2 linked regions of the Homo sapiens genome follow. The protein of the gene in region 1 purifies or fractionates together with the protein of each later gene. This does not show direct contact. Each region holds a gene or a part of one and is shown in the gene's direction. Other genes may lie near its edges.

Region 1 (3,827 bases):
AATCTTTGTATTTTGTTTTTTTCTTTTTTTAGTAGAGACAGGGTTTCACCATGTTGGCCGGACTGGTCTCGAACTCCTGACCTCAAGTGATCCATCCGCCTTGGCCTCCCAAGGTGCTGGGATTACAGGCCTGAGCCACCATGCTGGCCTGGACCTATACAATATTCTAAGGCTGTGGTTCTCAGCCCTGGCTGTTCATTAGAATCATCTCGGGGGCTTTAAAAATGTATAAACTGATTTGGGGCAGGGGAGGGTATACATTAACACAAATTATATCAGTGTATAGTTTAAATTTCTCCTCCAAAGCCCATGTGGCAATTTAAATGCCATTGTAACAGCAATAGGAAGTGGGCCTAATGGGAGACTCTTAAATAAAATTCAGCAAGTTCTTCTTGAATAGTCGGTATAGCTAGTGATGAATATAGAATTTGCCTATGATAAAAGCATTAATAAAATTCAGCATAGTTACTGTGTGTATGTATATTATCGCCACTTACTGAAGATATTTATACCAAGTACTACAACAAGAATACTATTCACGCAATCTTACGCATACCTTGAAACAATCCTATTAAATATTATCATCCCCACTTTACACATGAGGAAACGCTTGCAGAAGACAGATAACATTTTGAACTCAAAGTTTTTGCCAAGTGAACATTTCTCAGTTCCCTGTTAATTCACAGTAAAATAGTTTCATTTCTAGTTGACAGTAAAATGAGCAAATTTACTCTCTGCACTTTTTAACAAAGACAAATTTCAGTTTTGTATTTTCGACTAGCAGAATGTTCCATGCTTGTTTGATGAAGCTTGTTATGACATCACCCCACTGAGGGTCTTGGGAATCCCTGATCAGGAATTTCCTCTATTATGAAAAACAGAGGGGACCATCTTGTTACTACATATCCTAGAAGATAATAATTTTCTGGCATTGTCCCAGACCTAATAGCTGCTTGGTGTTTTCAGGAAAATTATTGAACTCCAGAGTTGCAGGAAGTTTACTCATAATTTCAAAGTAGTATTTGATTTTGCAATTTAAAGGGCAATTAAACAAAGCTGAGACAATACTGCCTTTTGTAAGTGTAAATTTATTAAAGGAATTATCCCTCCAGGATGAGAGACATAGTTAAGAACTTTATGGTCCAGTGAGAATGTGGAACTTCGGGAACTGGGATAGTGTTTTAACAAAGAAAACATCTGAATATTATCTCAGGATAAAAGTAATGACCAAACCTTCAAAGTATAATACAATTTATCTGGAAGCCACCCTGGTTTTTTGTTTGTTTGTTTGGTTGGTTTTCTAAATTTGTTTTGTAGAGGCAAGGGTTTGCTATGTTGCCCAGGCTGGTCTCAAACTCTTGGGCTCAAGTGATCCTCCTGCCTCAGTCTCCAGCTACTAACCCAGGCTCTGGAAGCCACATTTTTGTCCACTTATTAAAATAGCATGAAGGGAGAGAAAAGTATAAACATAAATCTCCTTTAAAAAGTGTTTTTCTCTTGCGTATAATGAGAATCAGGTAAATAATTAGATTTTGCTAACTTTTGGCCACCAGCAAATTTAAAGCTAAACAAATTGTTTATGGTCTGCAAAACTGCATTCTAATTTTCCCCATCTAGATCTTCTATTGTAATTTTTTGTTGGATTCTAATTACTACTATTCATGTAATTATGTTTGTTTATATAAGCATCTTTAAACACTTTATGAAATATGACAGGGAATAAATTATAATTAAACCCAACTCCTGCCAAGGCCTCTGTTTAAGCAATTTATTTAACCAATTAATGGGAAAAAAAATTAACTGAGTAATATGATACATATTACAATTGCAAAAGAAAATTGATTCTAGCCTGTTAAGTACAGAAACATCAAGAGAATTACAAGCTGATCCATATATAAGCAGTAATGAATACTGATCCAACAAATTCTAGCTTCTAGCAAACCATATCTTTCCCCCTACAGCATAGTGACTATTCTATCTTTTATAAATTCAGACTACCACTTCTCAGGGACACAATGTACGACCAAAATGGCTATCCATATATATAGTTGCACTATTCTATTTGTTTCTAGGTAGTGTGTATCCATATATGTCTGCATTCTAATTTATAGTGCTACTTTTTTTTATCAAGATGAGTATGTTATAATGAAATTAATGGAGTTTGTAAGGAGCTTTCCAAATTTCTAAAACTGCCAAAAAGGATTTTTTTTTCACACCTTAAGTATTGTCTATAATGCACTTTTCTTTTCCTTCAGGGTGAATTGCTATGGCGTGGTAAGTGCCCAGTGCCCCTTTGGTGGATTCAAGATGTCTGGAAATGGAAGAGAACTGTAAGATTAACGTTCTATTAAGATAAATATTTATTTTTATGAAAATGATTTTCATTCCCAGGGAATTAACTCATAGTTTTCACCTTACATAAAACCTGCCTCTGTTCTTTCCTGGAGATTCATAGCACCAAATAGCTTATTAAATGTGGGATGTACTCCATAAGTGCAAAAGGTGATTGCAGAACAGCAACATAATTTACTAAATTCCTACTATATTTTAGGGACTATATTAAGCAACTTACATTGGTGATTGTAATACTGCTTGCTTTTAGAATTGCTTGCTATATATATGAATGTAATCCATTTGGGAAACATTTCCAGAAAAGAGGTGGAAACTATGCATTGGTGATTGCAAGAAAGGTGCAAATGTAAACACTCTAGTTATTTGAATAAACCATTTAAATAAGTAAATTAGGTGACTTATGTAAAGGAAATTTCAGTGTAAGAGGAATGATTCCCATTTGTTGAGATATTATTGATGTAGACTTTAACATTTTTTATTACCATAAGAAGTTATTTTTAGTATTAAAACTTAAACCTAAAAGGAAATTTGAGGAAAACATGTTTTATAGTAGTGACTAGATTAAGAATATTTATATATAAATGCATTTATGAAATTTCAATTGCTTTTGAAACTAGGGTATATAGACTTTTTAAGTATGCACATATATATGTAAATACAGAAAGTAGTGGCAATATGCTTAGTTGATTTTGTTTAGGCAAGTTTAGTCATTTTATTTCTTAAAACTTTTTTACATGTATTAATGTAAACATTTATGAAGAAAAAAGAAATAGAAACCTTATAGTATCAAACACAGATCGTAAACTTGCTCATTTTGTAATTAGGAAGTGAAAATGTGCCTTTCTCAATCTCTAAATGTATTAAATGGTTGAGTACCGTACTCTAACAAATCAGCAAAATTACAAGGAAACAAATATCTCTGAAGAGTCAGTGAAATGGGAGAATTATAAAATGACCAGTCTACTTTCTCAATATGCTTTCATTTATTAAGCACTTGCTATGTGTAAGGTCCTAGGAACCCCAGAGACATGACACCATGTTCCATGCTCTACATAGCTGTGGTGGCAGGACATGCAAAATAACCTACATACACTATGAAATAAGTAGTAATACACTGGGATTCCATATCCTATGGAGGTAGAGAAGCAATTAAAGTACCGAGCAAAGTATTGAAGAAAACCTAGACACTACCAGAGTATAAGAGTCAGGATGGCATCTCTCTAACCATCACTATTTTCATCTGTCAGACAAGGCCAAGGATTGTGAGTGTGGATAAGAGTGGAAGAAGAAAATAGATCTTTTAACCTCTATTCCATGCTTAAGATTCTATAGTTCTGACCCCACTGGAAATCCAGTGGTTGAAAACTTAATGGCAGTTTATAGAGAAGAAAACTTCTCCTAACAGAAGAGATGAAACTTCCTCTAGGGCAGAAAGCAAGTGTAGGATATCAGTTAGTAGAGAAGAGGGCTTTCTT
Region 2 (3,827 bases), on another chromosome or scaffold:
CTACTCGGGAGGCTGAGGCAGGAGAATCACTTGAACCCGGGAAGTGGAGGTTGCAGAAACCGAGCCGAGACTGTGCCATTGTACTCCAGCCAGGGTGACAGAGCAAGACTCTGTCTTGAAAAAAAAAAAAAAAAAGAATGAGTTAAGATTGTAATTTATGACTTATTCATTTTAATATACTTGCAGTGTTCACCTGTGATTCCAGCACTTTGGGAGGCCAAGGTGGGCAGATCATCTGAGTTCAGGAGTTCAAGACCAGCCTGAGCAACATGGTGAAACCCCATCTCTACCAAAAAATACAAAAATTAGCTGGGTGTGGTGGCGTGCACCTGTGGTCCCAGCAACTTGGGAGGCTGAGGTGGGAGAATTGCTTGAACCTGAGAGGGTGAGGTTGTAGTGAGCTTAGATCGTGCCACTGCACTCCAGCCTGGGAGACAGAGTGAGAACTTTTCTCAAAAACAAAAAAAAAACAGTATGTGTATACACACACACACACACACACACATACACACACATATATATATATATTTGCTGTGTTGTTTTTCTTAACATGGATACTCTTTGAAATGGGCAGGTAAGCCCTTTGAGCTGTCTCCACTCGTCTGTGCAAAATATGGCTGGGTCACAGTGGAATGTGATATGCTCAAGTGCTCTAGCTGTCAAGCTTTTCTCTGTGCCAGTTTACAACCAGCTTTTGACTTTGACAGATGTAAGTATAAGGTACAAATTACATTTTTCTCCACACTCAAATATATACTATCCTGGTTTTCTGGGGGGGGAAAAAAGGTCATTTTAGTTTGATCAAAAAATGCGTACTTCAATCTTTTTTTTTAATCTTTTTTTTTTTTTTTGAGATGGGGTCTTGCTTGTTGCCCAGGCTGAGCAAGATGTAATAGTGCAATTACAACTCACCACAGCCTCAACCTCCTGGGCTCAAGCGATCCTTCCTCAGCCTCCCAAGTAGCTGGGACTACAGGCGCAGTGCCACTACACCTGGCTAATTTTTGTTTTTTTTTTGTAGAGGTGGGGTTTTACCAGGTTGCTCAGGCTAGTCTTGAACTCCTGAGCTCAAGTGATCCGCCCACCTTGGCCTCCTAAAGTGCAGAGATTACAGGGGTAAGCCATAGTGCCTGGCCAGTCTTTTTTTTTTTTTTTTTTTTTTGAGACGGAGTCTCGCTCTGTCCCCCAGGCTGGATGGAGTGCAGTGGTGCGATCTTGGCTCACTGTAAGCTCCGCCTCCTGGGTTCACACCATTCTCCTGCCTCAGCCTCCCAAGTAGCTGGGACTACAGGTGCCTGCTACCACGCCTGGCTAATTTTTTGTATTTTTAGTAGAGACGGGGTTTCACCGTGTTAGCCAGGATGGTCTTGATCTCCTGACCTTGTGATCCACCCGCCTCAGCCTCCCAAAGTGCTGGGATTACAGGCGTGAGCCACCGTGCCCGGCCTTTTTTTTTTTTTTTTTTTTTTTTTTTTTTAAACTAAGCTAGCTACTGCAGCATGGACTTGACTTAATGTAATCTAGGTAACAGCAGCATGTTTACTTTATTATTCCAAAATGTATACTTCTAGACGAAGAGTGACAAAGGACTTTTATGAAGTCTCACACTTTGGAATGCTCTGCTTTATAAGATACATGGGGGCCGGGCGCAGTGGCTCACGTGTGTAATCCCAGCATTTTGGGAGGCTGAAGTGGGTGGATCACATGAGGTTGGGAGTTTGAGACCAGCCTGACTAACATGGTGAAACCCCATTTCTACTAAAAATACAAAACACTACTCAGGTGGCTGAGGCAGGAGCATCGCTTGGGCCTGGGAGATGGAGGTTGCAATGAGCCGAGATTGCACCACTACACTCAAGCCTGGGCGACAGAGCAAGACTCTGTCTCAAAAAAATAAAAAATAAAAATAAGATACATGGTATCTCCTTTGTTGATCTTAGGATCTCAATTTAAAACCTGTTTTGTGAAAAATATTAAGATTATGTACTTGATAATATTTTCACATTTTAAAATTCTCTTATTTTTAGTTAAATCTCTGCTCTTAGAGGCCATTCATTGGATTTTGAATCTATATAGTGTTTTTTAAGGTGTTGCTGTTTATGTGGATTTCAGATAAGCAACGATGTGCTGAGCTGAAGAAAGCCTTGTGTACTGCCCATGAGAAGTTCTGTTTCTGGCCAGACAGCCCATCCCCAGGTACTTATTTTTGAGAATTCCTGTTCACCATTTTTCCTTCATCATTGCATTTCTAATATTGTCTGTTTGTGAAAACCTAGTCTTTGAACTTTCTTTTTCTCCTTTTCTTTTTTTTTTTTGAGATGGAGTTTCACTCTTGTTGCCCAGGCTGGAGTACAGTGGCGCGATCTTGGCTCACTGCAACCTTCGCCTCCCGCGTTCAAGCAATTCTCCTGCCTCAGCCTCCAGAGTTGCTAGGATTACAGGCGTGCGCCACCACGCCCAGCTAATTTTGTATTTTTAGTAGAGATGGGGTTTCACCATGTTGGTCAATCTGGTCTCGAACTCTTGACCTCAGATGATCCGCCCGTCTCGGCCTCCCAAAGTGCTGGGATTGGGATTACAGGGGTGATCCACTGTGCCCGGCCTCTTTTTCTCCTTTTCTATTTGCATTATTTCCAGAAAAACTTATATTCACTTGTGTTATTACTTACCTTCATGAAGTGCATTTGACATGCTTAAGGCTTTAGACATATATATGCATTATCCCATTTAATCCTTACAGGGGCCCTGGGAGGTAGATACTACCAACCCAGTTCTTTTGGTTTTTTTTTTTTTTTTTTTTGAGACAGAGCCTCGCTCTTTCACCCAGGCTGCAGTGAGGTGGCACGATCTCAACTCACTGCAGCCTCCACCTCCGAGGTTCAAGCGATTCTCCTGCCTCAGCCTCCCGAGTAGCTGGGATTACAGGTACACGCTGCCACACCCTGCTAATTTTTAAAATTTTTTGTAGAGATGGGGTTTCACCATGTTGGCTAGGCTGGTCTCAAACTCCTGACCTCAAGTGATCTGCCTGCCTTGGCCTCCCAAACTGCTGGGATTACAGGCATCAGCCACTGTGCCCGGCCATAACCCAGTTCATTTAGGTGAGGAAACTAAGAATCAGAGGTCTTAAAACCAACTAGAGAGAAGCTATAACTAAGTTTAATCTGATTTCAAACCCTCCGCTTTTCCCACCACACCAAGCAATGCCATGTTCTACCTAGGTTTCCTGTAGAGGGAGTACTAACAGCAATAATGGTGGAAGTTAAACAGGGTTCATTTGCTGAAGAAGACTCACAGGACCCCAAGTGAGAGTGATCACAAATCTGCAGTTTATTGCAGTAAAACAGTACACTATCACAGCAGCACTGAAGTAAGGGTGTCATTACAGCCACAGGCTGCCTGTCTGGGAAGGCCAGGTCCAACCTCCTATTTCCTGTCTATATAAGGGCCATGAGAGGACATACTCTCCCTTGAATCAGGAACTACTGATGTGTGCACAGAACACTTTGGAATAAGAGAGCCCAAAGTGTAATCTCAACTGGGTTTTTAAAAATATTTTGTTCTTTGGCCAGGCACAGTTGCTCCCAACCATAATCCTAACACTGGGAGGCCAAGACAGGAGGATTGCTTGAGTTTAGGAGTTTGAGACCAGCCTGAGCAATAAATATAGTAAGACCTCATCTCTATGAAAAATAAAAAATATTTTGTTGATCACATAGGCATATTCCTGCTGAGTAAACAGCTTCAACAGCAGAGCCCTCTGGTGGGGAATCTAAGAGCAAGTATAAAAAAATTCTTTAGACCCATAGTTAAAAAGCAACACTATT

Evidence for each region.
Region 2: the proteins of ALDH1A1 (region 1) and ZC3HC1 purify together in Homo sapiens (co-immunoprecipitation; one large-scale study listed by IntAct). This does not show direct contact.

What each region holds. Positions count from the first base shown.
Region 1 is NC_000009.12:72,904,461-72,908,287, reverse strand, and holds part of ALDH1A1 (aldehyde dehydrogenase 1A1), read left to right. Parts: intron 1-2,255; coding exon 2,256-2,330; intron 2,331-3,827. UniProt on the Homo sapiens protein: Cytosolic dehydrogenase that catalyzes the irreversible oxidation of a wide range of aldehydes to their corresponding carboxylic acid.
Region 2 is NC_000007.14:130,037,833-130,041,659, reverse strand, and holds part of ZC3HC1 (zinc finger C3HC-type protein 1), read left to right. Parts: intron 1-558; coding exon 559-709; intron 710-2,112; coding exon 2,113-2,196; intron 2,197-3,827. UniProt on the Homo sapiens protein: Required for proper positioning of a substantial amount of TPR at the nuclear basket (NB) through interaction with TPR.